Regions from separate parts of the Homo sapiens genome. Here regions 2 and 3 are each linked to region 1. The links come from fine-mapping of genetic effects on gene expression. A gene starts in region 1. Each other region holds a variant in brackets. All regions are shown on one strand. Distances are from middle to middle.

What was found.
Region 2: its variant is fine-mapped to the expression of MCUR1 in whole blood (INTERVAL, PIP 0.98).
Region 3: its variant is fine-mapped to the expression of MCUR1 in tibial nerve (GTEx, PIP 0.97).

The regions. Positions count from the first base shown.
Region 1 is chr6:13,809,341-13,819,853 of GRCh38, reverse strand. MCUR1 (mitochondrial calcium uniporter regulator 1) reads left to right here and starts at 5,297. Exons shown (of 9, transcript NM_001031713.4): 1 at 5,297-5,839. The coding sequence starts at 5,425. It overlaps LOC107986571 (a long non-coding RNA gene), which reads right to left and starts at 6,044. Exons shown (of 2, transcript XR_001743986.3): 1 at 5,765-6,044. RefSeq lists an enhancer at 4,830-4,929 and silencers at 5,090-5,359, 5,440-6,109.
Region 2 is chr6:13,773,577-13,780,967 of GRCh38, reverse strand. No RefSeq gene overlaps it. Among named protein-coding and RNA genes, the nearest start is that of MCUR1, 37 kb to the left of the region's middle. The variant A/T (reference allele first, on the strand shown) is at 4,844.
Region 3 is chr6:13,782,936-13,793,448 of GRCh38, reverse strand. MCUR1 (mitochondrial calcium uniporter regulator 1) reads left to right here. Exons shown (of 9, transcript NM_001031713.4): 8 at 1,457-1,571; 9 at 2,585-6,892. The coding sequence ends at 2,640. Among named protein-coding and RNA genes, the nearest start is that of MCUR1, 26 kb to the left of the region's middle. RefSeq lists a silencer at 4,128-4,296 and an enhancer at 4,965-5,797. The variant C/T (reference allele first, on the strand shown) is at 6,103.

The sequences.
Region 1 (10,513 bases):
CAAAGCCGAATATTTACTATATGGCTTTTTAAAAACATTCCTCAACCACTGATTTAGACCATTTACACTTAATGTAATTATTGATATGTTTAGATTGATGCCTAATATTTTATTGTTTGCTTTTAGTTTTTATCTCTGTTTTTTGTTCTTCTATTTCTCCTTTCCTATCTCCTTTTGGGTTACTTGAACATTTTTTAATATTACATTTTATCTATTATGTGTTTTGACTTGATCATAGCTCACTGCAGCCTCAAACTCTTGGGCTCAAGTGATTCTCCCACCTCAGCCCCCTGAGTAGCTAGGACTATAAGCATTCACCACCATGTCTGGCTTTCTTTTTTTTTTTTTTTTTTTTTTTTTTGTAGAGGTGGGGTCTCACTATGTTTCCTAGGCTAGTCTTGAATTCCTGACCTCAAGCCATCCTCCCACCTCAGCCTCCCAAAGTATTGGGATTACAGGCATGAGCCTCTGTGCCCAACCTATATCTCTTTGTACAGTATCTTTATGGGTTGCTCTAGGGATTACAGTAGACATATTTAACTTTTTCTAACTCTACTTAGAATCAGTATTTTACCACTGTAAGTGCAATATGAAAACTTCACTACCATATAGGTCTCTTTATCCTTGCCCTTTTATTTTGTAGTTATTATATACCACATCTATAAACATTAAAAACTTCACCATTGTTTGAATTTTTGCTTTCTATCATTTAACATATTTTAAAGAACTAAAGAGGAGAAGAATATTATACTTATCTTGGTATTTGCCATTTCTGTTGCTCTTCCTTTATTCCTAATGCTCCAAGTTTCCTTTTGGTATCATTTCCCTACTATATGGTGAATTTCCTTTAGCAATTCTTTTAGTGCAAGCTTACTAAAAACAACTCCTCTTAGTTTTCCTTCATCTGAGGATGTCTTTATTTCATCACTTCATTACTGAAGGATATTTTTGCTAGTAATAGAACTATGGGTTGACAGTTCAAGCTAGGGGAGCTCATACATTGGAAAAAATACTAAACTAAACATCAGTTCAGTGGTACTTTGATTTTTGTCTTCTTCACTGATGTGCCTGCTATTATTTACTTTTCAGAGTCCTCAAATAGTGGCTCTATGCATTCTGTCCAGCTTTTATGCCTGCATTCAGGTGGAAAGACAGGGTGGAGTGTGCTTATTCCATTTTACCCAGAAGGAGAATCCTTTCTTCACCCTTTAACACTCTTCAATTACGGAGAATAGTAGTTTGATTAGTGGAAGTTGACATTCCCCCATCAGTGTTTACTAGTAAGAGTATCAGTATGCTAAAGGTCACATCCAGGAATGTTCCAACTCCTTTGTTCTCTCTTTGACCTGCTTGCACCGGGGACAATGAGCCCTTGACCTTTCTGTTACTACCTGCTAAAACAGACCCAGTAGATCTTTCAGGGATAGCTCTGGCCATCTTCCATCTCTTTTCTCCTGATGACACCTAGAATATATAAGGCCACCTAAACTTCTCACAGATGGTGGCTAAGTCAGAGTCTGCTCTGTGAATCCAGCTTTACTCATGGGAGGTCCCTAAGTCTAGATACAGAGAGAGAGTAAGATGGCCCCACTTTGGCCCCAGATCCAAGTATATTCACCAATCCAACTTTGTCATAAAGTCCAACTTTGTCATGGTTCACATGGGGGTTGTCTGGCTCCTGCCTGATCCATTAATTAGTTGATACTTCTTCTTCTTCATTGGCCATTAGATTCCTGTATCTAGTCTCTCTATACATAGACAGAAGTCTAACATGTCTAGATTATCCTAATGTACACTAATGTATCCGGGATAGGAATCAGAAGCCCTATCCCAGCTGGTTTAAGTAAAAGCAACTTATTGGATTACATAAATAAAATGCCAATTTCAGCCTAAGCTAGAATCAGACGCTCAAAAGGACCCGTCTCTTCATTTCTCAGTCTTCTTTTCTTCATAAGGGCTTTAGTCTTAGGCCACATGGTAGCCCCAGGAGCTCATGGTTCAAATCATCCTATACCTAGACATCACAATAAAATAAGACGACCTCTTCCCAATAGTTCCTATTAAGAACCCTAGAATTGGGCCAGGCGTGGTGGCTCACACGTGTAATCCCAGCAATTTGGGAGGCTGAGGCAGGCAGGTCACTTGAGGTCAGGAGTTTGAGACTAGCCTGGCCAACATGGTGAAACCCCGTCTCTACTAAAAAATACAAAAATTAGCTGGGCATGGTGGTGCTTGCTTGTAATCCCAGTTACGTGGGAGGCTGAGACAGGAGAATCGCTTGAACCCAGGAGGTGGAGGTTGCAATGAGCCAAGATTGAGCCACCACACTCCAGCCTGGGCAACAGAGTGAGACTCCATCTCAAATAAACAAACAAAAAAAGAATCCTAGAATTGAAGCTTTTTTTTTTTAGATGGAATTTCACTCTTGTTGCCCAGGCTGGAGTGCAATGGTGCAATCTCAGCTCACCGCAACCTCCACCTCCTGGGTTCAAGCAGTCCTCCTGTCTCAGCCTCCCAAGTAGCGGGGATTACAGGCATGTGCCACCACACCCAGCTAATTTTGTATTTTTAGTAGAGACGGGGTTTCTCTAGACTGGTCTCCAACTCCCGACCTCAAGTGATCCGCCCTCCTTGGCCTCCCAAAGTGCTGGGATTACAGGCGTGAGCCACCGCGCCCGGCTGCTCATTAACTCTGATTGGGTGACATGCCCATGCCTGTGGTCTGCAGAGCGATCAGTCTCTCCAAACCGCATGGACTGAGAGCAGAGAAGAGCCACTGCCCATGGAAAACTAGGGTGCTGAGACCAAAAGAAAGGGAATGCTTTGGAAAATAAAACAACAGGTGTCACATCCAAGGAAAAGTGGATGCTATCCAACCTGTAGTTAGAACTGACATTCATTATACTCCTATCATAGGCCAGGCACTGTGCTAAGTGCTTTACATATGTTATTGTATTCAATATGGCTGGTAATAGTAATACATGAAAAGTTAGTCAACATCATTAGGCATCAGGGAAATGTTATGTTAAAAATCACAATAAGGTACCATTTTATGAGGACTGAAAATATCAAAATTTGGCAAGGATGTGGAACAACCGAAACGCTCATCTATTGCTAAGAGTGTGAAAGGGTGCAGTCGCTTTGGAAAAACAATTCAGCAGTGTCTAAAGTTAAGCTACCATATGATTCAGCAATTTGACCCAGATACTTTCCCCAACAGGGATAAAAATTATGTCCACACAAGGTCTTATACAAGAATGTTCATAACGCCCTATGCATAATAGCCAAAAACTATAAGCAAAGCAAATGGCCATTAATAGAATGGATGACCGCTTGTGGTATGGTCATACAATGGAATACTATTCAACAATTAAAAGCAACTAATTACTGATACAACAGCATGGATGAATCTCATTGATATTGAAGTCAGACGCAAAGCAGAAGAAAGACACAAGGCAATGCATATTGTAGGTCTCCATTTACATGAAGTTCAAAAAAAGACAAAACTAATCTATGGTCATTGAAATTTGAAAATAGTTGGCCGGGCGCGGTGGCTCACGCCTGTAATCCTAGCACGTTGGGAGGCCGAGGCGGGCAGATCACAAGGTGAGGAGTTCGAGACCAGCTTGGCCAATATGGTGAAACCCCGTCTCTACTAAAAATACAAAAATTAGCCAGGCGTGGTGGCAGACACCTGTAATCCCAGCTACTCAGGAGGCTGAGGCAGGAGAATTGCTTGAACCCGGGAGGCAGAGGACACAGTGAGCTGAGACTGCACCACTGCACTCCAGCCTGGGTGACAGAGCAAGACTCCGTCTCAAAAAAAAAAAGAGAAAATAGTTGCCTTGGGGTGGTGGTGGATTGTCTGGAAAACTGGCACAAAATAACTTTCTGGAGCAATGAAAATGTTCTAGATCTTGACTGGGTGGTATATACAACTGCTAAATGTCATCAAGTTGCTAAATGACATTTATCAACTGCTAAATGTCACCTAAGTCTGTGGAATTTACTGTATGCAAATTATACCTCAATTTTTAAAAATTACAAAGGACTAACATTAAAGTTTGTGCCACAGTTTAATCGTTCCTCTAATGTTGTGCACTATTTTCCCATTTTTTCACAATCACAAATTATGATACAATGACTATCTTTTGTGCATATGTGAAATTACCAATATTAAGCATTTTGACCCATAAAAATGACAAGTTTGTATAGTCAAACCTAGTAGATATTTAATATTTTGGATTATTCCCATTATCCCCATTTTTAGTTAGGTGACTTGAGAAAAGTTTACAAATTTTTGTTGATACTCATTGCTAAACTGCTTTTTCTACCAATTTTATAAATGTATACTCCTTTTACAAAAGTGTCTTAGGTTGGTGCAAAAGTAATTGCGGTTTTTGCCATTACTTGCAATGGCAAAAGCCGCAACTACTTTTGCACCAACCTATGACTTGAATCCTGTTTTTCAGTTCTTCAAATTTTGATAGACACTTATCTTGCACATCCATATGCACGCTCCTCTCTTCCCAGCACTTTGTACATCTCTCATGGCTCATAACACATTCTTCCATCACGTATGTGTACACATATGGCTGTATAGGAAAACAGCTTCTGGAGGATAAGAACAATTTGTTTTGCGGTTTTTTATTTTTAATAAAATCTCCTAGCTTGGTGCCTTATGCATTTCATTTATTTATTCAACTAACATCTTCCAAATTCACATAAGGGACCAGTTATCTGTGAATGGTGTAACAGGCCTTCAAAAAGTCCACGAAACTAAACATTACCAGTTTCAAATATACCCGACAGGTCTCATTTTAACATTCATGCCCCACGTTTTAAGTTCCCAGATTGCTACCTTCCCATGTTTTTGGTGCTCTAATCTGGAAACAAAAACTCTGAAAATTTAGTTTTGAATGTATTATGTGAGGGCCTTTCCCTGGGCCCTGCTAATAATTCCTTAAAATGCTCCCCAGAACCACATGTTTGGGGACTTAGGATAATCAGTGAAATCTAGGGCAGCCTGTCGGTCTGAGACTTTTCACAGGACTCTGAAGGGCACCGGGGTAATTCCTTTTTAAGGACAGCAGTGCAGTGAAAATGCAAATCGTGACAGCAACAAGCTCCTTCCAGTTCCGGAGTGCCCGCAGGCTCCTCCCGGTCGCCGCCGTCGCCTAGCGAATGGGGTGGGGGCTCGCACGGTCCCCGCATCTCGGAGCGCCACGGCGGGCTCCTGCCGCCCCGCCCCACCCCACCCCCGGCGCGCGTCCCGAGCCCCGCCCGCGCGCCCGGCAGGAAAGGGCGGTCCTGCGCTGTGGCCCACGCTCGCTCCCGCTGTCGGACTCTGGGCCTGGACCGCGCGTGGCCGGCGCCAAAAGCGAGAGGCATGAGCGCGCGCCCGGGCCAGTGAACTGCTCGGGGATGGACTGCGGCTCGGTCGGCGGCCAGAGGACCCAGCGCCTGCCCGGCCGCCAGCGGCTTCTCTTCTTGCCCGTGGGCCTCAGCGGAAGACCGGGCGGCAGCGAAACCTCAGCACGCCGCTGCCTCTCTGCGCTCTCCGACGGTCTGGGGGCGCTGCGCCCTCGCGCCCCGGCGGCCCGCGGCGGCGTGTCACGTGCCTCACCGCTGCTCCTCCTCCTGCTAGTGCCCTCCCCGCGCTTGGCCGCCGCAGCCCCGCGCCGGCAGCTCGGGGACTGGGAGCGCTCGCGCCTCGGGTATGCCGCACCCCCGGCCGGGCGCAGCAGCGCGTGGAGGTGCTCACCGGGCGTCGCCGCTGCCGCCGGCGCCCTTCCCCAGTACCACGGCCCGGCGCCTGCACTCGTTTCCTGCAGGAGAGGTGAGGCCCGGGCGGGAGAGGAGAGGGGGCTCGTCTCGCGGGGTTGGACGGCGGGGCGGGGATCTCAGCTACAGCCTCCCCGAGGAAAGGCCCGGCAGGCCGGAGGGCGGGTCCTCCAAGGCCACCGGCATCTGCCCGGAGCGTGGGTCGAAGGTCCGGGCCCGCCCTGCTCGGCCGCGGTGGCGGGGCTTAGCCCAGAAGAGACGAATTCCTGGGAATCCCGGGCGCTAAAGTTGGAGGGAGGTGCGTGCTGGGGCGGGGAGTTGGTGCCCGCCCACTCCTAGGGTCTGCTTTTGGGCGCCGCCTTCCAGGAGTTCTGTTTGGCAGCGCCCAGCCTGTTGGGCGTTCAAGGGGAAGGGGTGTGTATGTTTGAGCAGCAAAGCTCTGGGAAATGAAGGGATTGCTTTACAGTTTGATTTCAAATTCTGATGGAATCATTAATTCGTGGAGTCCTAGCGTCTGCCCTGTCCCTGGCGCTTTTCTAGATGTGTGAGATATATCAGTCCACAAAATCTTCCCTCTGGAGCTTAATTCTAGCAGAGCAGACGCAGTAAATATGTGTGTGTGGATATACGTATGCATAATTGATGTATATATAATTTATATATACAAATAATTTTTATATATTCGTAATTCGATGCCTGGTATAGAAAAATAGGATAAGGCTTGGGAAGTGGAATGGGTCTCCAGTTGTGAATTTAAATAGGGTGATCAGAATCGATTTCATTGAGAAGGTAGCATTTAATTAGAGTCATGCATCTCTTCAGGACAGTCGCCTACTGAGAAATGAGTCATTAGGCGACTTCTTCCTTGTGTGAATATTGTAGAGTGTGCTTACACAAACCTGGATGCTACAGCCTACTACACACCTAGACTATCAGGTAGAGGCTAGTGCTCCTAGGCTACAAACCTGAACAGCATGTTACCGTACTGAATACTAGAGGCAATCTGAACACAATGGTATTTGCGCATCTAAATGTAGAAAAGGTAGAGTAAAAATATGTATTATAGTCTCATAGACCACTGTCGTGTGTGCCCCTCTGTCCTGGGCTGAAAGGTAGTTGTGGGGCTCATGACTATTTAAAGGAGGTGAGAGAGATCACTGCCCTGGAGATGAGGAAAGTAAATAGAATCAATTTATTAGATAGCATATTGTTGATTAAAGAAAAAAATCATTTCTGATAATCAACAGACTTGGCAAAATTATCACTTTGGGCAGTCTATACATATTCATTAGTAGCCATCACTAACTACACATTTTTCATATTTTCTTCAACAGATAGGCCCACTAAATGTTGACCATATCTATAATTTAAGAATATCATTGGCTGGGGTAAAAACTGATTAGTAGAGCAATAAAGTGAAGGAAACTTTATATACAGAGAGTGGGGAATGAGTAGTGAACTCGGTGTCACTGTCCTTCAGTAATTAGGAGTCGGAGATGAGTTTGGTCTTTATTCTGTATTTTGCCTTTTGTTGCGCTTTTTCTGACAAGCTAGTAATTTCCAATTTGTTTTTCTCTCAATGCAAGAGTATAGGGCAAAAAGAGAGTGTTCTTTCTCACGGATTTGCTGACCAATCGGTAAGGTGGTACTGTTGTTTTAGTGTCAGCTATCTCATTCTTCAGTCATCATAAAAAATGAGTATGGATGCATAAAAACAGAAGAGAGCAGAGACACAGTTAAGGAAGCATGTATGCCCATTAACCAGCCAATGAGCGTTTCCCAACCATTTGTTTGCTTGGTGCCTGAGGTTCTCGGTTGAGCTACTTAAGGATGTCATGAGTAGGAAGTTTGTATTTGGTTTCCTCATCCTGTCCAAGGCTACCTTTGGGCCTCTATTGTAATTGTGGGTTTTTAATATTCTCTTGATATGCTGAAGGTCCCCAGAAAGGGGAATTGCATGTTACACGTTGACACAGCTCAGTTGGCTCGCTTCCTTATGATCAGTGAGGAGTCTGGGAGTTGGCGGTGTCCTCAGGTACTGCCCTTTGACAGAAGGCCAAGAGGGCATTTCCTTCCCTCATCAGGGGTTGGAGTGACCAATGGAAAGTGGCCAGCCCTTCTGTCGACCTTTCAGAGGCAGGATTTCTTGGAAATAAGCTTGCTGTTTCTGGTTCCAATCTTTTTGAAAAAGAACAACAATAACAAAAAAACTGTAGTATCCAAATTGGCGTTACAAAGTAGTCATGTGATTGTTTTGTTTATGTGGGGGTGGGGGTGAGGAGGTTATGTTTTAAATACATGAATGATTATTTTCTTACTAGAAACAAGGAATTTAGGTCTAGAGTAACCCTGTCACTCTTCACAAGTCATTCCAGACTCAGGTGTTTTCGAGCTCCCTGACACATGGGGCAGTCCAGTAGAGTTCTGGGGCAGGTGAGGTGGTCCTTAGGAGGTCCCCTGGAGAAGTGCTTTCATTCCTTCACTCCCACTGTTTCTCAGGCTAGGTCTCTTCTGTGTTGGGCAGACATCCTGGGTCTCTTCTCATGGAGGCCAGTTTTAGTCTCAGGACTGGAAATAAACTAAAAAAGAGGTACCAGATTTAAGTGAGCTCGTTTATGTGAAAAGGGAAGAACTGAGGAGAAAGGAATTCATCTCAAATTTTCCCTCTAGACAGTTTCATAATCCAGATTGTAGAAGTCATTACAGTTCAATTACCAAAAAAAAAAAATTATTCCTAGCCTGCTGTATGCCAGGCCCCTTGCCAGATGCTAAAGATAAAAAATGAGCAAGACTGGCTGCTCCTGGGCAGCTTGGACAAATAGATGATACAGATGAGGAAATAATGTAGTAAGTGCTACGATGAGCTATCTGTACTGAGCTGAGAACACAGGTATGGGCTCAATAAAGGTTGCTCCCTTAGCTGGGTGGAGGAAGCAGAGAGAACCATAAAGTGTAAAAAAGAAAATGCCACACCTGGAACATAATGTATACTCAGTAAATTGGCAATTTAATGAAGAAGGGTAAAAAGAATGCTTAAAGTTTAACGATTGGGAAAGGGGAGCAAGCCATGCTTAAGCATGCAATTGCAGGAAATAGAATAGCTTAGGTTGCTAGAAAGAAAGCTGAAAGGATAAGCGTGGTCATAAATAGCAAGGGCTTTGTATGCCAGGTCAAGGACCTCCTGTCATAGCACAGTGGTTCTTTGAATCTCAGGGCCCAGTTTTACCAACAAACACAAACACACATAAGTCATTGCACTTTATATTGTGTCAGTCTGCAAATGGTTCTTGATACAGATATGGATTATTGCATCTCTTGCACTCATCTGGATGCTTACAGTGACCACAGCTACCCTCCCCTTCCCAAGCTGTGAGTAGGCTGGGAACAACTCCCATAGGCTGCAGCAAAGCGTCACATTTGTAGGGTTCAGTCCATTTTTTTGTTTTGTTTACTCTCGATTTCATTATAGGGTAATCGGGGTGAAGGACTGAGAGTGGAAGCTGATCAGCTGGAGCATCTTTCTGGTCATTCAGAGGCCTGCTGGGGAAACCTTTGACCTTTGAGTTGGCAGGTGACCCTTCTTGCTCCTACCAGACTTCTACAACACCAGACCTCAGACTGGTGCCAGTTAACGGCAAAATTAGAAAAGTAATGACAAATATGTAGCAAGATTTTCATATACTAAGTTGATTAAATGGAAGTTCTTTTGATTGTTCATCTTTTTTTTTCTTTTGGTGTCATAATGTCTTTTTTAGTACAATATTTAATAGTAGTAGTAAGCAGCTATATTTAAAAGTTCTTTCATGACACAATTAAAAATTGGCAACTCAAATATTGTTTATTTATTTTTAATTAATTTTTTTTTTTGAGATGAAGTCTCGCTGTGTCACCTAGGCTGTAGTGCAGTGGTGCGATCTTGGCTCACTGCAACCTCCGCCTCCCAGGTTCAAGCAATTCTCTTGCCTCAGCCTCCCGAGTAGCTGGGATTACAGGTGCCTGCCACCACGCATGGCTAATTTTTGTATTTTTAGTAGATACGGGGTTTCACCATCTTGGCCAGGCTGATCGTGAATGCCTGACCTCATGATCCATCTGCCTCGGCCTCCCAAAGTGCTGGGATTACAGGCGTGAGCCACCACGCCCGGCCTTTAAATATTTTTTTTTTCGATACAGGATCTTGCTTTGTCACCCAGGCTGGAGTGCAGTGGTGCAATCATAGCTCACTGCAGCCTCAAACTCCTGGGCTCAAGCCATCCTCCTGCCTCAGCCTCCCAAGTAGCTGGGAGTAGCTGGGAATACAGGCACACACCACCACACTCGGCTAATTTTTTTTTTTTTTTTTGAGAGGAGGTCTTGCAGTGTTGCCCAGGTTGGTCTCGAATACCTGGCCTCAAGTGATCTTCCCACCTTGGCCTCTCAAAGTATTGGAATTACAACCATGAACTAGTTCACCTGACCCAATTAAAAAAAAAAAGATTTTAGCAGTTCATAAAATCCAAAAGCCAACTGTACCATATACTATACCACCTCCCTCAGATGAGTACCTTGAAACAAGAAGTTTACAGAATGGATTGGATCTGTGGCTAAATGCACAAAAACTTATAGAAAAGGTAATGTAAAAATTGTTAGAACATAGCTCTCTAAAGATAGGCTTTTGCAAAGACATTACAAGAAAAGAATGCTATTGACCGATATCTCTTATGATTAAAGATGAGAAAATCCTTAACAA
Region 2 (7,391 bases), 37 kb after region 1:
GAACTCCTGGCCTCAAGTAATCCTCCCGCCTCAGCCTCCTAAAGTGCTAGGATTTACAGTAATGAGCTACTGTGCCTGGCCTCTGTTTTTTGTTTTTTGGTTTTTTTGAGACACGGTCTATTCTCTGTCACCCAGGCTGGAGTGCAGTGGTGAGATTTTGGCTCACTGCATTCTCGACCTTCTGAGCTCAAGCGATCCTCCCACATCAGCCTCCTGAGTAGCCGGGACTACAGGCACGCACCACCATGCCTGGCTAATTTTTTAATTTTTTTTTTCTTTTTGAGGCAGAGTGTCACTCTGTTGCCCAGGCTGGAGTGCAGTGGTACGATCTTGGCTCACTGCAACCTCTGCCTCCCAGGTTCAAGCAGTTCTTCTGCCTCAGCCTCCCAAGTAGCTGGGATTACAGGCACGTGCCACCACGCCCAGCTAATTTTTGTATTTTTAGTAGAGACAGAGTTTCACCATGTTGGCCAGGCTGGTCTCAAACTCCTGACCTTGTGATCCACCCGCCTCAGCCTCCCGAAGTGCTAGGATTACAGGCATGAGCCACCACGCCCGGCATGCCCAGACTGTTTTCAGACTGATGTAGTATCCTTCTTCGTGCCTCAAACTAGGTTCTGTTTAGACATGTTACAAGTTAGTGTGCGTTTATGTTGGTGCAAAAACATCTTAAAATCCATACATAGTTTTTTTTCATAATATGCATTTTGCATGAACTTTTTGAAGTCCCCTTGTATAGTGTTGGCTTTGCCATATTGTTTTAATTAAATAAGAGTAGCATAACCTAGGTACAACACCTAAGAAGGAGCAGGAACCCTTTAGAGGCCTACCAAACCCCACATAAAATAAAAAATTTTAAAGTATTGAGTTACTGAAAAAAAATTCCAGGCCGGGCATGCTGGCTCATGCCTGTAATCTCAGCACTTTGGGAGGCTGAGGTGAGTGGATCACCGGAGGTCAGGAGTTCGAGACCAGCCTCACCAAGATGGTGAAACCCCGTCTCTACTAAAAGTACAAAAATTATCCGGGCATGGTGGCATGCGCCTGTAGTCCCAGCTACTTGGGAGGCTGAGGCAGGAGAATTGCTTGAACCTGGGAGGCGGAGGTTGCAGTGAGCCAAGATCGAGCCACTGCACTCCAGCCTGGGTGACAGGGCGAGACTCCGTCTCAAAATAAATAAATAAATAATAAATTCCAGGCACCTAACTAGCCCTAAAAATGAACAATAAGCAAAAAATTAATTAAAGAAACAATAGCAAAAAAGTTAAAGTCATGAGATATTTGTGTTCCCTATAAAAACTAATGATAATGGCCAGGTGTGGTGGTGCATGCCTGTAATCCCACCACTTTGGGAGGCTGAGGTGGGTGGATCACCTGAGGTCAGGAGTTCGAGACCAGCCTGATCAATATGGTGAAACCCTGTCTCTACTAAAAATACAAAAATTAGCTAAGCATGGTGGCAGGCACCTGTAAACCCAGCTACTCGGGAAGCTGAGGCAGGAGAATCGCTTGAACCTGGAAGACGGAGGTTGCAGTTAGCTGAGATCGCACCATTGCACTCCAGCCTGGGGGACAGAGCGAGACTGTCTCAAAACAAAAACAAAAACAAAACAACAACAAAAACTAAAGATAACATGTGAGCATATATCCCTCGGTTGTTTTTCAGAAACCCAGATCCCCACCGAATGGATCCACTGGCACTTAAACCTCAAATAAGGGAGAACTGATGGCTAAACTGTAACCACTGTTCTTTGTTCTAAATTTCTTCTTCCTGAGCAGGCTACAAAAAGTCACACCCTCGAGCCAGAGCTACCATTCTTTTCTACTGACCTCAAATCTTTAAACAAAGCTCTTTTTTAACCAATTACAAATCAATAAATCTTTAAATCCACCTATGACCTATGGGTCCTCACATCGAGATGTCCTCCTTTATATGAGAAGCCAGCATGTAGCCTCCATATATTAATTTATGACTGCCTATAACCTCTGCCTTCCCGCCTTTAAAAACCCTTACCTGTAAGCCTCGGGTCTTAAGCATGAGCTGCCTGATTCTCCTTGCTTGACACCCTACAAATAAACACCCCCAGATCACCTGAGGTCAGGAGTTTGAGACCAGCCTGGCCAACATGGTGAAACCCCATCTCTACTAGAAATACAAAAAATTAGCCTGGCGTGGTGGCACGCGCCTGGAATCCCAGCTACTTGGGTGGCTGAGGAAGGAGAATCGCTTGAACCTAGGAGGCAGAGGTTGCAGTGAGCAGAGATCACGCCATTGCACTCCAGTCTGGGAGACAGAGCAAAAATCTGTCATAAATAAATAAATAAAATAAACGCCCCCCTTTCTCCCACTACAAGCCTCAATATAGATATTTGACCTTACTACACTGGGCAAGTAGACCCTAGTTTGGCTCAATAACACTCCCCTCCCTTTAAAAGGGGCAGGAGTAGAATTCCAACACCTGTTTCTTTTGCTTCTGTTGCCTTAGGGTGGGTGCATGGCAAAAGTATGTACTCCTGTACACCACCCCTCTCCTCTTTCCAGCTTCCTGGTTCCATCTTTTCTAACTATCACCTACAAGAATAACTCAGATCATATATACTTGGTCTGAAATTTGCATGATTATGGGAAAAGAGTACTAAAATCAATTTATATTTGGTAGAATTCGTGGTTGGTAAGGGATGACTGTGGCTTATGCGTGGTTGGTAAGGGCCCTCGGCCTTATTCATAGGGTGGTAAACCTAGAAGTCATTGTGTCCTCTACTGAATTTGTGGAATGCTGCAAATTACTTATGTATCCGATTCCTTCATCCAACCTAGGAACAGAAAATACAGCTATGATACCAGTATGCAATTAACCACAAGGTTGGATACTTATGAAAACAAAAAAGCTGTTGAACTACTCCTGCCCCTTTTAAAGGGAAGGGAGTGTTATCGAGCCGAACTGGGGTCTACTTGCCCTGTGTAGTAAGGTCAAATATCTGTATCGAGGCTTGTAGTGGTAGAAAGCAGGGTGTTTATTTGTAGGGTGCCAAGCAAGGAGAATCAGGCAGCTTATGCTTAAGATCTGAGGCATATAGGTAAGGGTTTTTAAGGCAGGGAGGCAGGGGTTATAGGCAGTCATGAATTAATTTTTTGAGCTTTCCCTATTAATATTTATGTGAATGAGCCTGGACAACATGGTGAAACCCCACCTCTAAAAAATACAAAAATTAAATACAAAAAATTAGCCAGGCATGGTGGCAGGCGCCTGTAGTCCCAGCTACGTGGGAGGCTGAGGCAGGAGAATGGCGTGAACCCGGGACACGGAGCTTGCAGTGACCTGAGATCACGCCACTACACTCCAGCCTGGAGGACGGAGCGAGACTCCTTCTCAAAAAAAAAAAAAAAAAATTAGCTGGGTGTGATGACGCAGGCAGGAGGCTCAGGCAGGAGGATCACTCAAGTCCAGGAGGTCAAGGCTACAGTGAGCTCTGATCATGCCACTGCACTCCAGCCTGGATGACAGAACAGGACCCTGTCTCAAAACAAACAAAAAAACAGAAAGAAAGAAAGAAATGTATGTGGGCTGGGCGCGGTGACTCACGCCTGTAATCCCAGCACTTTGGGAGGCTGAGACAGGCAGATCACCTGAGGTCAGGACTTCGAGACCAGCCTGGCCAACATGGTGAAACCCCGTCTCTACTAAAAATACAAAAATTAGCTGGGCATGGTGGCAGATGCCTGTAATCCCAGTTACTTGGGAGGCTAAGGCAGGAGAATTGCTTGAACCTGGGAGGTGGAGGTTGCAGTGAGCCAAGGTTGCGCCATTGCATTCCAGCCTGGGCAACAAGAGCGAAACTCCATCTCAAAAAAAAAAAAAAAAGAAAGAAAGAAAAAATGTATGTGAATGCCTTTGCTTGGTTGTAAGCACCAGCAAGTGCTAGTAGGCAAGCAGTAGCAAATCTCCAAAGCTTAGAACTCCATGGGAAAACATTTAAGATGGAGAAAACCGTACCTATTACCTTTTTCCTGAGACTTAACAAAACCATGATTATTTCGTTTTAGCAGCACGATATCTTGTTACGGTTGCTAAAAACCAGTTTTTACAGGCAGATATTTGACCAGTAAGAATACTATGAGTCAGGAGCCCTGGCCGTAGCTCCCCACCTTGCCACTTGTTGCACTCTTGGGAAAACCATTTGACCTTGCCAAGCCTAAGTCTTAGTCAGTCCGGACTGCTATTACAGAATACCGTAGACTGGGCGGCTTCAACAACAAACGTTTCTCTCTCACAATTCTGGAGGCTGGGAGGTCTGAAATCATGGTACTGGCTGGCAGATCTGGTGTCTGGTGAGAGCCCACTTCCTGGTTCACAAATGGCTGTTTTCTTGCTGTGTCCTCACACAGAGTGGAGAGACGGAGGAAACAAGCTCTCTAGAGTCTCTTCTTTTTTTTTTTTTTGAGACGGAGTCTTGCTCTGTCGCCCAGGCTGGAGTGCTGGGGCGCGATCTCGGCTCACTGCAAGCTCCGCCTCCCGGGTTCACGCCATTCTCCTGCCTCAGCCTCCCGAGTAGCTGGGACTACAGGCGCCCGCCATCACGCCCGGCTAATTTTTTGTATTTTTAGTAGAGATGGGGTTTCACCGTGTTAGCCAGGATGGTCTCGATCTCCTGACCTTGTGATCTGCCTGCCTCGGCCTCCCAAAGTGCTGGGATTACAGGCGTGAGCCACCGCGCCCGGCCTAGAGTCTCTTCTTATAAGGGCACTAATCCTATCATGAGGGCTCCATGCCTATGACCTCCTCACCTCCTCATACCATCACACTAGGGAGCAGGGTTTCAACACAGGAATTTGGGGGAACAC[A/T]AATTCAGTCCAGAGCACCTTAGTCCTTATGTTTCGAAAACAACAACAACAATAATTATAATAGGAATGCTTATAGAGCATTTATTTACTGTATTCCAGCTGTAGTTTTTTGTTTGTTTTTTGTTTTGGTGGGGGTTGGGGTCTCGCTCTGTCACCCAGGCTAGAGTGGAGAGATCTCAGGTCACTGCAGCCTCCACCTCCCAGGCTCAAGCAATCCTCCCACCTCAGCCTCCCAAGTAGCTGGGACTATAGGCATGTACCACCACACCCGGCAAATTTTTTGTATTTTTTGGTGGAAAAGGAGTTTCGCCATGTTGCGCAGGCTGGTCTCAAACTCCTTAGCTCAAGCTATCTGCCTGCCTTGGCCTCTCAAAGTGCTGGGATTACAAGCATGAGCCACTACACCTGGCCTCCAGACATAGTTTTTTTGTTTGTTTGTTTGTTTTTCCGAGACAGAGTCTTGCTCTGTCACCCAGACTGGAATGCAGTGGCTGATCTCAGCTCACTGCAATGTCCGCCTCCCGGGTTCGAGCAATTCTCCTACCCCAGCCTCCCAAGAGCTGGAATTACAAGTGCCTCCCACGATGCCTGGCTAATTTTTTTTTTTTTTTTTTTTTTGTATTTTTAGTACAGACACGGTTTCACCATGTTGGCCAGCCTAGTCTCGAACTCCTGACCTTGTGATCCACCCGCCTCAGCCTCCCAAAGTGCTGGAATTACAGGCGTGAGCCACCGCGCCCGGCCCAGGCATAGTTTTAAAGTAATCACAATCTCATTTAATCTTCATCACATCCCTATGAAGTAAGTACTACAGTGATCTCTATTTTGCAGATGAAGATACTGAGGTATAGAAAGTTTCAGTAGACTGGATGAGGTGGCTCACACCTATAATCCCAACATCTTGGGAGGTGAAGTTGGGAGGATCCCTTGAGCCCAGAAGTTTGAGACCAGCCTGGGCAACATAGGGAAACTCCATCTCTATTTATTTAAAAAAAAAAAAGAAAGAAAGAAAGAAAGAAAAAAGTGGGCCTGGCGTGGTAGCTCATGCCTGTAATCCCAGCACTTTGGGAGGCCGAGGCAGGTGGATCATCTGAAGTCAGGAATTCAAGACCAGTCTGGCTAACATGGCAAAATCCTGTCTCTACTAAAAATATTAAAATTAGCCAGGCACAGTGGCGTGCACTTATAATCCCAGTTACTCAGGAGGCTGAGGCAGGAGAATCACCTGAATCCAGGAGGTGGAGGTTGCAGTGAGCCGAAATTGTGCCACTGCACTCCAGCCTGGGTGACAGAGTGAGACTCTGACTCAAAAAAAAAAAAAAAAAAAAAAAAAAAATAGTAATAAAAAAGTTGAAGTAACTTGCCCAAGAACACATAGCTAATAAATGGTGACGTCAGAGTCAAACCGAAGCATTCTGATTCCAGGGAATAGATACCCTACCTGGCTGACCACATGTGGTAAGGATCAAATGAGGTCAAATACATGAAAATATTTTCTAAACAATAAAACCCTGGCCAGGTGCAGTGGCTCACGCCTGTAATTCCAGCACTTTGAGAGGCCGAGGCAGGTGGATCACAGGTCAAGAGTTCAAGACCAACCTGGCCAAGATGGTTAAACCCCGTCTCTACTAAAAATACAAAAAAATTAGTCGGGCATGGTGGCAGGTGCCTGTAATCTCAGCTACTCGGGAGACTGAGGCAGGAGAACAACCTGAACCTGGGAGGCGGAGGTTGCCCTGAGACGAGATCATTCCGCTGCACTCCAGCCTGGGCAACAGAGTGAGACTCCATCTCTAAATAAATAAATAAATAGTAAAACCCCATACCTACATATAAAATGTGTAGTCTGCATGCAATAACTGGAATCCTTTGCTAGTAATTACTAGTAATATTACTTGCCCAACCACCAAACAAGCAAACTTCTGTTAGTACCCTCCCTGGCAACCACCCCAGGGTACTAAGGTGAATTTACTAAGATGCAGTATCCTAGTAAAAGAACATTCTTCTTCGAGTATCTAGGGTACAGACTGTAGTAGGTATTAAAACAACGTAGGTAACCCATGGACATATCCGTAAGCTCTCAAGTGTTATACATCAATCTTCCATGCAGACCCCAGGGTGATTGTGAATATTTATATTTTTATTGGGGAATCTTCGTATAAAGGGGTTGATGTTGACATGGAGCCCACTGTTTGGGTCTCAGAGTCACCCTGAGTTTAGGCCTTAAATACTTGTTTGATTCAGTACCCTTGTTTTTGAGACAGGGTCTCACTTGTCACCCAGAGTGCAGTGGTGCAATCTCAGTTCACTGCAACCTCTGCCTCCTCATGCTCAAGCCATTCTCCTACCTCAGCCCTTCATATAGCTGAGACTACAAGCACGCACTACCATGTCTAGCTAGTTTTCGTATTTTTTTGTAGATAGTGTTGCCATGTTCCCCAGGCTGGTCTATGAACTCCTGGACTCAAGAAATCCGCCTGCCTTGGTCTCCCAAAGCGCTAGTATGTCTGGAACTGGTAGGTTCTTGATCTCATTGAAATTATGAATG
Region 3 (10,513 bases), 26 kb after region 1:
ACTTTCTTCCTTTTTAAGGCTGATTAGTATTCCATTATATGTATATGCCACATTTTCTTTATTCGTCTGTCAAGGGCACTTGTGTTGCTTCCACCCGTTGGCCTTTGTGAATAGTGCTGCTGTGGGCATGGGTGCACAGATGTCTGTTGGGATCCCTGCTTTCAGTTCTTTTGGGTATATATGCAGAAGTGGAGTGTCACAGGATTTTTTGCACTTCACAAAGTGTTTGGTTATCGTAATGGAAGATAGTTATCCTATGAAAGATTTAAACTTTCTTAATGAAAGTTTCCTTTTCTTCTTTCTTTTTTTTTTTTTTTTTTTTTGAGGTGGGGTCTCGCTCTGTCACCCAGGCTGGAGTGCAGTGGCTCAATCTCAGCTCACTGCACCCTCCTTCACCTCAGCCTGTAGAGTAGCTGGGACCACAGGCTCACACCACCATGCCCTACTTGAGAGTTTGTTTTTCTTAACGGAAGTTTTATTAAGAAAGTTTAAATCTCAGTAATTGAAGAATAGTGAGGAATGGAGAAGTCTTATTCTATTTTTAATTTATAGCATACATTTCTCCTTTTCCATACTGTATGGAACCTGGGACCTCTGAAACCCCCAAGAGGCTTTCATGAGAGAATTCCAGAATCCTGGGATATTTCTCTGGAATACTTTTTTACGCATCCAGGCATTTATTTCTTTTTTTCTCTGCCTGAATTGGTAGCCATAGGGAAAGATTTAGTTGCTGTAGGAGTTTTAGTGAAGGATTCCCATGGTTTTTATGCTTTAATGCAGTTCTACAACCCCCTATAGCGTCGGCCAAACCCACTGCCTTTTTGAGGGTTGATTATGTGTCCAGTTTAACTGTATTGTATTTGGGGAAGGACACAAATTGGCCGTGGGTAGCCAAGCCTCATAGTAATGAAACACTTGATATTTGAACATGAAAGAAGAAAGTTTTTTAAAAATATGACTAGAAATAGCTCAAGACAAGCACTGCCGCTTTCACATTATCTAAGACTCCATTTCTTGAAAACATTTTTGAGTTTACTGTCTATCTTTGACTAAGGAGGATTTAGAAGGATGAGACGTAGCCGTTGCCTTTGAGAACAGACTGGCCTCATAATACCACATCATTTGTATAGCAACCTAGAGCTTACAAATGCTTTTTCACATAGATTATCGCATTTGATTCTCTAAACAGTCCAGGTAAAGGCAGGGCCACTGGCTTGGTTGTTTCGTTTTGTTCTGTTTTCATTTTTTCAAATAGAAGAAAACTAAGGCCTAGAGAGGTTAAGGGTCCTGACCAATGCAGCGTAGAATTAGGGTTTTAGAACTGAGACTAAAGCCCAGGCCTCCATAGTCTTACCCAGGTTTCCCTGTGACTGCACCCCGTTGGGAAGGAGCTATAGGATGGTGAGCAGAGGGGACGTGCTGTGGTCTAACGCTGTGACTCTCTTCATTTTAAAAGCATGCCCAGCAAGATCGGGCCCTTACCCAGACAGACAGGAAGATCGAAACTGAGGTTGCTGGCCTCAAAACCATGCTTGAGTCACACAAGCTTGATAATATTAAATATTTAGCAGGTAAGCTATTTTGTATCTATTTAAATCAACCTGAAAAGAAAATAAATTTATAAAATAAGTCGTTGACAGATACTGCATTTCATTGATTCCAACACTTTCTGAAATATTTTAACATCTCTGAAATTGGAAAGCATCTTACAATTTCCAGTAGATGAAGTATCATAGTTTAATTGGCACTTTTTCTTTCTTAGTAGTAAATAAAGTAATTGTGTACGTTATAATTGATAGAATTGGAAATTTGATAAGATACTATAATTGAACTATAGTTATTAGGGATTTTAATGAGATTCAAGACAGGAAATATTTTATGGATAAAATGGAAGGTGTTTCAGTTGTAATCTTTCTGCTTCAATTGCTTAAACTCCTTTTAAGGAGTTATTTTACTTTCGCGATTTTTGATCCAAAAGAGAGAATGAACATTCATGTACCACCCCCCACCCAAATTAACCATTATTTCAAGTCAGATTTAACGTCTTGGATTAATTAAATATTTTAAGGTTACAGCATTATTTAACAGTGAAATGTTGTTCTTTATATTAAATTGTGTCTTCCTGTCTCTATAGTGCATATACATAGACCTTGTGACCACAGAATTTTTGCTATTCGAAACTTTTATTGAAAAGTTTTCTTAGCCTAGGCAACACAGCGAGACCTAGTCTCTACAAAAAGATTTAGCCGGGCATGGTGTCATCTGCCTGTAGCTTCAGCTTCTTGGGAGGCTGAGGCAGGAGGGTCACTTGAGCCCGGGAGTTTGAGGCACAGTGAGCTGTAATCATACCATTGCATGGTGCACTCCTCCTGGGTACCAGATGAGACCATGTCTCTAAAATAAGAAAATAAAATAAAGGGTGTGGGATTTGTTTTTTCAGTAGGCAGGCGTTTCACGGAATATGGGACATCAGTGAGCAATCTAAGTTTCTAGGTTTTCTTTTTTAGGTTTTCTTAAAAAAAGATGTTCCCTCAAGTAACTCTTAATAGAACTAATAGTACTCTCAATTGTTTTTTTCTTACAGGGTCTATATTTACGTGCCTAACAGTAGCTCTGGGATTTTATCGCCTGTGGATCTAATAAAGTGTCTATTTAAAGTGATTTCTACTGTTTTGCCTTAAGAATACCAGATTGTTGGCTGGGTGCGGTGGCTCACACCTGTAATTCCAGCACTTTGGGAGGCTGAGGCAGGTGGATTACCTGAGGTCAGGAGTTCGAGACCAGCCTGGCCAACACGGTGAAACCCCGTCTCTACTAAAAAATTAAAACATTAGGCGGGCGTGGTGGCGGGCGCCTGTAGTCCCAGCTACTCGGGAGGCTAAGGTGTGAACCTGGGAGGCGGAGCTTGTAGTGAGCCGAGATCACGTCACTGCACTCCAGCCTGGGCAACAGAGCGAGACTCCGTCTCAAAAAAAAAAAAAAAACCGGAATACCAGATTGTTGTCCTTTTGTTTTCTTGTTACACATTTGAGCCCAGATTTTGACTTAATGTGTATTATTTATTTTTATGAAAATTGTGGACACATAACCAAGATAAAGAAGTCAGGTATTCCATAGCCATTCCTTATCTCCTTTCTGCTTAGTTGACTTTCTAGCTGAGTGGTGCACAGTGCATGGAAGATTCCACTTAGCCGGACCAGGAAGCTTGGTCTCATCTGTGGTGCACACCAACAGCAAACATTGATGTAATTCTCTACAACTTAATCTTTGGCACATAGAGGATTTGGGGGTCTCCATGTTCAGGGCACAATGGCTTTAATAAGTGCTGGAAAATCACTGAAGCTAAACCAAGAGCACCAGATCCTCTTTACCTAAATAACCAGTCTTTAACATGAGCTAGTCCCTGTACCATAGTATTGTTTCAGCTGTAGTTGGTTGTCATGTTAATAAGACAGCTGCACGTCTACCTTCTTTTCTTTTGATTTCCATTGTCTTGGTAAGTTATTGTTAGGGTTATTTTTAATGTGCCTTCCAGCCAGAAAAATCAGCTGTCTAAAGAAGCATTGCAATTGTAATGGGGACTCTTACCTCTTAGAATGCAAGATTTTCCCTCCTCCCTCCCTCTTCTCCATCTCTTTCCCTCATGATTTGAGAACTGTAATAATCCTCCACTGGTGGCATTACCTACCTAGAAAACCTGCTGATTCTTAGCATGGAACTTTGCTTCAGTTTGCAGGACAAAGTCTGCTTCCTTCCGGTCTTCATTTACTTTTTATACAAGGGATGCAGTCAGCTCTCCATGTATAAGATACCTAGATGATGGATACATATTTCATAAATGAAATTTATGTCATTAATGAATATCCCCTTGCCCACAACCAGCTCAGGCTTTCAAAATTCGAGAATGGTCATGCCACACAGCATTCTAATCTAGATGGATTAATTCTGTTGTTCAAAACATTCTCATACCTGCCTTTATATTGAAAACAAATTCTAGATACAACTGGGGTTATTCTGGAAAAGCACATTCTCACCTTTTTTTTTTTTTTGAGACGGAGTCTCGCACTGTCGCAGGGCTGGAGTGCATTGTCGTGATCTCTGCTCACTGCAACCTCTGCCTCCTGGGTTCAAGCGATTCTCCTGCCTCAGTCTCCTGAGTAGCTGGGATTACAGGTGCCCACCACCACGCCCAGCTAATTTTTGTATTTTTAGTAGAGATGAGGTTTCACCATGTTGGCCAGGCTGGTCTCTAACTCCTGACCTCGTGATTCACCCGCCTTGGTCTCCCAAAGTAGTGGGATTACAGGCGTGAGCCGCTGCGCCTGGCCCATTCTCATCTTATTCAAATTACTGGCACATGGGCAAGAGAGACAATGACATGGATAGAAGCTTTTCTGCCTTTCTCTGCACACACATACAGTGAAGGAACCACAGGCAGATTTTTTGATCAGTTTGGTGAATACATTGCTCGTTGTCACTGTTCCAACCACATTGGTAAAAAAAATAGTTACCTTTTGTCCTTTGGATGTCATGTCTAAACTTTGGAAAATATAAGTCATTGCCCTTTTAGAGAATGTTTGTGTAGTCCAAAGATTGTGAGCTCCATATAGTATGAAAATCAAGTACTTTTGCATGAGCAATAGCAGTTTCAAAGTGAAATATTATAATTTAATCTTTTTCAAGTAGATCAAAAATTCTTAACTGATTAATAAAATATTTTATCAATATATCATCCCCCTTTCAGAGAGAAGTCCCCAGAAGAGACAGCACACTTAGCAATTGCCCTCATTATTAAAGGCCTAGGTGAGTGGCATAAAGGGCCATATGCGATTATGTTTCAAGGTAAACATTACCTAACCTTGTGTGGGTTAAAAACAGTGAAGTGTCCTTGTATCCTGATAAAATTTTTTTTTAAATAACATGGTGGGTTGACATTTTTGCATCTGCTATAAGTTTTCTCACATGTCGTTCTTCCTGGTGAGAGCGGGCTGCATCATTCTGGCACTTAATTTGGGTGTTCGATTTTGCTATAGAGTTCTTTGCAGTACAGCATAGCCTCTTCTTGGCCTTGGGAACAGTGAACTCTTCTTTTGATGGTGTGGATTGCATGCATATCTGGAGAGAGGAGGGCTCAGGACTGTGTTCACTTTATTTGGTCAGATGTATTTTATTTGAAAACCATTTGAGCCCAAAATACAAGTGTACCCTTCCCACTTCTGGCTCAAGCACCCGTGAGCCGACTAGACGTAATATTAAAACTTACTGATGCTGGGTGCGGTGGCTCATGCCTATAATCCCAGCACTTTGGGAGGCCAAGGCAGGCAGATCACCTGAGGTCAGGAGTTGGAGACCAGACTGGCCAACATGACGAAATGCTCTCGCTACTAAAAATAGAAAAATTAGCCAGGCGTGGTGGCACACCCCTGTAATCCTAGCTACTCGGGAGGCTGAGACAGGAAAATTGCATGAACCTGGGAGGCAGAGGTTGCAGTGAGCAGAGATTACACCACTGCAACGAGACTCGGGCCCAGACGAGATCTGCCTGGGCGACACAGTGAGACTCTGTCTCAAAATAAATAAATAAGTAAATAGAACCTCCTGAGCTACCCTGGCTTATAAGGATTCAGATTACTTTAGGAAATTAGGCATTAGCACTAGGAGGGGGGAAGATGGCTGGCAAAACTTCTAGCTAGCAACCTATGTCTAGCACATGGGTAACTAACCATAGCGAGATCCTGAACACATATCCTCTAGGTGCAGGTGGAGGGAACGATGTCCAATACCTGAAGCAGAATCTCACATGGACGGAACGTCTGTATTTCCCTCTCCTGCACGAATCACTCATCATTCTTGGAGGGCTTCTCTGCATTCCTCCTTTTCTTCTCTCCCCTCCCCTGCCTTTTGTCTTTTCTAAAGAGTCTGAACTCCGATTTCCATGCTCTCCTGCTACATTAATAAGCAAAACCTGCTTGTGTGTACGGTTCTTTACTGGAAACATGACTTTTTGTTTCTGTATTGGTTTTACTGTCATCCAGTTTTCTAGTTTAATATCTAGCAAAACTAAATCTGAATGTACTCGCTTTTTCCGTTAAGTATGCCAAG[C/T]ACCTCGGTTGAAAGGCTTGACTCAAACCAGAAGTCTTGCTGGAATTCGTCTCTGAACACTTGAAAAACAGAAACCCTGAGCCGCAACAAACATGCCTCTGTGTGTCGGGATTGCCTTTGTCTCTGCTTCCATGTGGCTTTTCCTTTTGTAGCTATGCTTAGTGACATAATCTTCCCTCTTCTAGCCTTCTCCTTTCAAGCCTGTCTGTTAATTAACCATGTCAGTATTGGCAAGCATTTATCTTCCCCCACCCTAACATGCAATCTTCTAAGAATTTTGCAAAATTCTAAACAAATATAGAGATGGTATATAGAATTCATATCTAGAAAACTTTGATTTTAATGTGAGCTTATCAAATTTGTTCTGGCTTTTTTGGCACTAAGGCAAAAACATGTTAACCAGAAATAATTTATTCTTCATGTATGTAAAATATTTGAGAATGTTTAGCCTTTTATTAGAATTTTATTTGGAAAATATTTATCTTTCTACACATTTTACACTTATGTTCCTTTGCTTATAACCCAATTTCTTAACTTTTTTGTTACTTAAGCAAATATCAATTATGTTTTATTATCTAATAAAGTGTAAGATTCTTACTATCTAAAATATTTAATTCTGTGTGACTAATATACTTTTCTGATCATTCAAATTGAATATGAAAAGCTAGAATAACTGTATTGCAACTGTTAATTCCAGCCAATTGTATAATGATAACACTGGTGAATTTCTAAGTAAATCTAATACTTGAAAATTTGGGTATACATAGAAAATAAATTTTAATATAATGTACAAAGTAACTTTTCATCATTCAAAAGAATTTCTTTAGCATGTTCATGTTATGAGTAATTTTATACAAGCTACTTGTTTGAGGGGAAATGATGAGGTTTAAATACAGGTTTTTAGAAATAGACAATTTTCTTTTTTTTTTTTCTTTTGAGACAAGATACTACTATTGCCTAGGCTGGATGGAGTGCATTGGCGCAGTCACTGCTCATGGCAGCCTCGACCTCCCAGGCTCAAGCGATCCTCCCACCTCAGCCTGGGACCCAAGTAGCTGGGACCACGGGCATGCGCCACCACACCCAGCTAATTTTTTTTCTATTCTTTGCAGAGATGGTGTCTCACTATGTTGCCCAGGCTGGTCTCAAACTTCTAGGCTTAAGCCATCCTCCTGCCTCAGCCTCCCAAGTGCTGGTACTACAGGCATGAGCCACTGCACCTGGCTGAGAAATACACAATTTTAAAAAATATCTGGCCGGGCACGGTTGGTCTTGTCTGTAATCCCAGTACTGTGAGAGGCCAAGGCGGGTGGGTCACTTGAGTCCTGGAGTTCGAGACCAGCCTGGCTAACATGGTGAAACCCTGTCTCTACAGAAAATAGAAAAATTAGCCGGATGTGGTGGCACACACCTGTAGTCCTAGCTACTCAGGAGGCTGAGATGGGAGGATGGCTTGAGCCCAGGAGGTAGAGGCTGCAGTGAGCTGTGGTTGTGCCACTGCACTCCAGCCTGGGTGACAGAGCCAGACCCTGTCTCAAAATAAAATAAAAATAGCTATAAGGATTCATGGAAATCCAAATCAGGCTAGCTTGAGCAGAAAAAAGAATATCCTTTTTTGGCTTATGTAACCAAGGTTCAGGAAGGACCAAAAAAATGCCATTGTGAGAACTCCCCTCTGCACCTCTTACCTTTGCTTCTTCTCTGGAGGGCATAATCCTCCTAGACCTACTTCTTCAAGCACAGAGAGCCTGTGTGTCTGCAGGAAACACCCAGTACATCCCCTTACAGCTTAATGATTAGTGAGCTCCACCCTGAAAAATCTTGGGAAGGAAATATCTAAAGCAAGCAGCTGGGGTCACAGGAAGCAGAAGGGTCCTCAGAGGGATGCACACTTCACCTTCCCTGAGGGCCTGTTGAGCAAATTCCCCACCTCCAAAAAATTGAGCTCTTCTTGAGTCAGCCTGTGTGGGTTGATCTTCAGTGTAATTAATACCTGCTCAGGAGGAGAGGAAAGGAACATCTCAGAAAAGGGGGTAAATGAAATACAGGTCTGGGCACGGTGGCTCACATCTGTAATCCCAGCTCTTTGGGAGGCCAAGGCAGGAGGATCACTTGAGGCCAGGAGTTCGAGACTAACCTGGACCACAAAGCAAGACCCTGTATCTAAAGTGAATGAATGAATGGTAGCCTGGAAATTTCAGTTACATCTCATTTTCTCCAACCAGAAATCTTGTACCAAAGTTAGAATCAAATAACTAGACTTGAGGGGGAACTGCAAAATTTCCAGAAGGCAACTAGCAGATGAGGTAGGCAAAGGCGGTAAATGATTTGCAAACTCAACCTTCAAGTTCAAAAATGGTGGGCAATGTGTTAGATTTTAGTCATCCTTCCACATCTCCCCTAGGTCCCCATTTCACATCAGTGGTAGGGGAACAAACTAAAAACCTTTTCTTTGCCTTGAGTTTTTTATTTCTTTTTCTTTTCCTTTTTTTTTTTTTTTTTTTGAGATGGAGTTTTGCTCTTGTCGCCCAGGCTGGAGTGCAGTGTTGTGATCTCGGCTCACTGCAACCTCTGCCTCTCGGGTTCAGGCAATTCTGCCTCAGTCTCCCAAGTAGCTGGGATTACAGGCGCCTGCCACCACGTCCGGCTAATTTTTGTATTTTTTGTAGAGACGGAGTTTCACCATGTTGGCCAGGCTGGTCATGAACTCCTGACCTCAAGTAATCCGCCCACCTCAGCCTCCCAAAGTGCTGAGATTAGAGGCGTGAGCCACCACTCATAGCCATGATTTCTTTTTCTTTTTTTTTTTTTTTTGAGACGGAGTCTCGCTCTGTCGCCCAGGCTGGCGTACAATGGCGCCATCTCGGCTCACTACAACCTCTGCCTCCTGGATTCAAGCGATTCTCCTGCCTCAGCCTCCTGAGTAACTGGGATTACAAGTGCCCGCCACCACGCCCAGCTAATTATTTTGTATTTTTAGTAAAGACGGGGTTTCACCATGTTGGCCAGGCTGGTCTCTAACTCCTGACCTCAGGTGATCTACCCACCTCGGCCTCCCAAAGTGCTAGGATTACAGGCGTGAGCCACCGCGCCTGGCTGATTTCTTTAAAACTAAGAAGATTGTCTTAAAGGCATTTTCTAGAAACAGCTTTCTCTCTGGCATCCCACAGCAGATCTCCTCCAGTTGTTCCGCTGCCCATTTTGTCTCCACCTTAACTCGGCAGTTTCTGTAGGAGGTTCTTGCCAAGGACCCAAGGAGGGTGGCCTTTGGGACACTGCAGAGGGTGGCCACTGTCAGCCACCAAGGTGTAAGCATCAGCATCCTTAAATAGAGATCAGTGAGATTTTGGTCTTCTTTTATATATCACAAATCTGCAGATAAGTATTTTTAGGCAACACCTTCCGCAATGAGTAGTTGAAACATGTAGGCATTTTATAAGGTCCCAACTTGCCCTTTCAGTTTAAACTAATTTTTTTGTTTGTTTGTTTGTTTGTTTTTTGTTTTGCACATACTCTATGTTTCGGTAAACTCTGATTGGTTGTCCATGATTCTGAAGGTTCAGGTCAGCTTAATGTTAAAGCCAGGAAGAGGCACTCCCGGTTTCAGCTTAGTGTGGCATTTCTGCAGTTAACGTCTTAACAACAAAGGTTTTAAAAATACTTCTTGCTCCGCCACCTCCAGGCTTCACAGTGTTCATTCCCCCAGTGGAAAAGACACAGTTGCTTCATAGCATCTTGTCCCCTACAGCATGAAAGTCAGTGTCTTTTCCTAACACAGAAGTATTTTGCTACTATTTGTCTTTTACATTTGTGTAGTATTTTATGGAGTGCATGAACCTCACAGCCTTCTGAGGGGCGCTGTAATAGAGAGTGTCTCTCTCTAACCTCAAGAATCTCTGTGAGGCCGGGCGCAGTGGCTCATGCCTGTAATCCCAACTCTTTGGGAGGCTGAGGTGGGTGGATCACAGGGTCAGGAGTTCAAGACCAGCCTGGCCAACATAGTGAAACCCCGTCTCTACTAAAAAATACAAAAAAATAAGCCAGGCATGGTGGCAGGTGCCTGTAATCCCAGCTACTCGGGAGGCTGAGGCAGGAGAATCACTTGAACCCGGGAGGCAGAGGTTGCAGTGAGCAGAGATTATGCCGTTGCACTCCAGCCCAGGCAATAGTGTGAGACTCTGTCTCAAAACAAAAAAGAATCTCTGTGAAAATTTGAACAGACTTCGTGAGGAAAAGATGGAGGCCTGGAGGATCAAGATACACAGTGACCTCATGAAAACGCTTACATGTATTTTGTTGACATTTGTATCCCGTGGATGCTGTCAACTGCAGTTAATGTGAAATGAGCAGTGGCTTACACCTAAGAACTTCTGTTTCTTAAATCTAAAATGGGTGATCCTCAGGGTTGGAT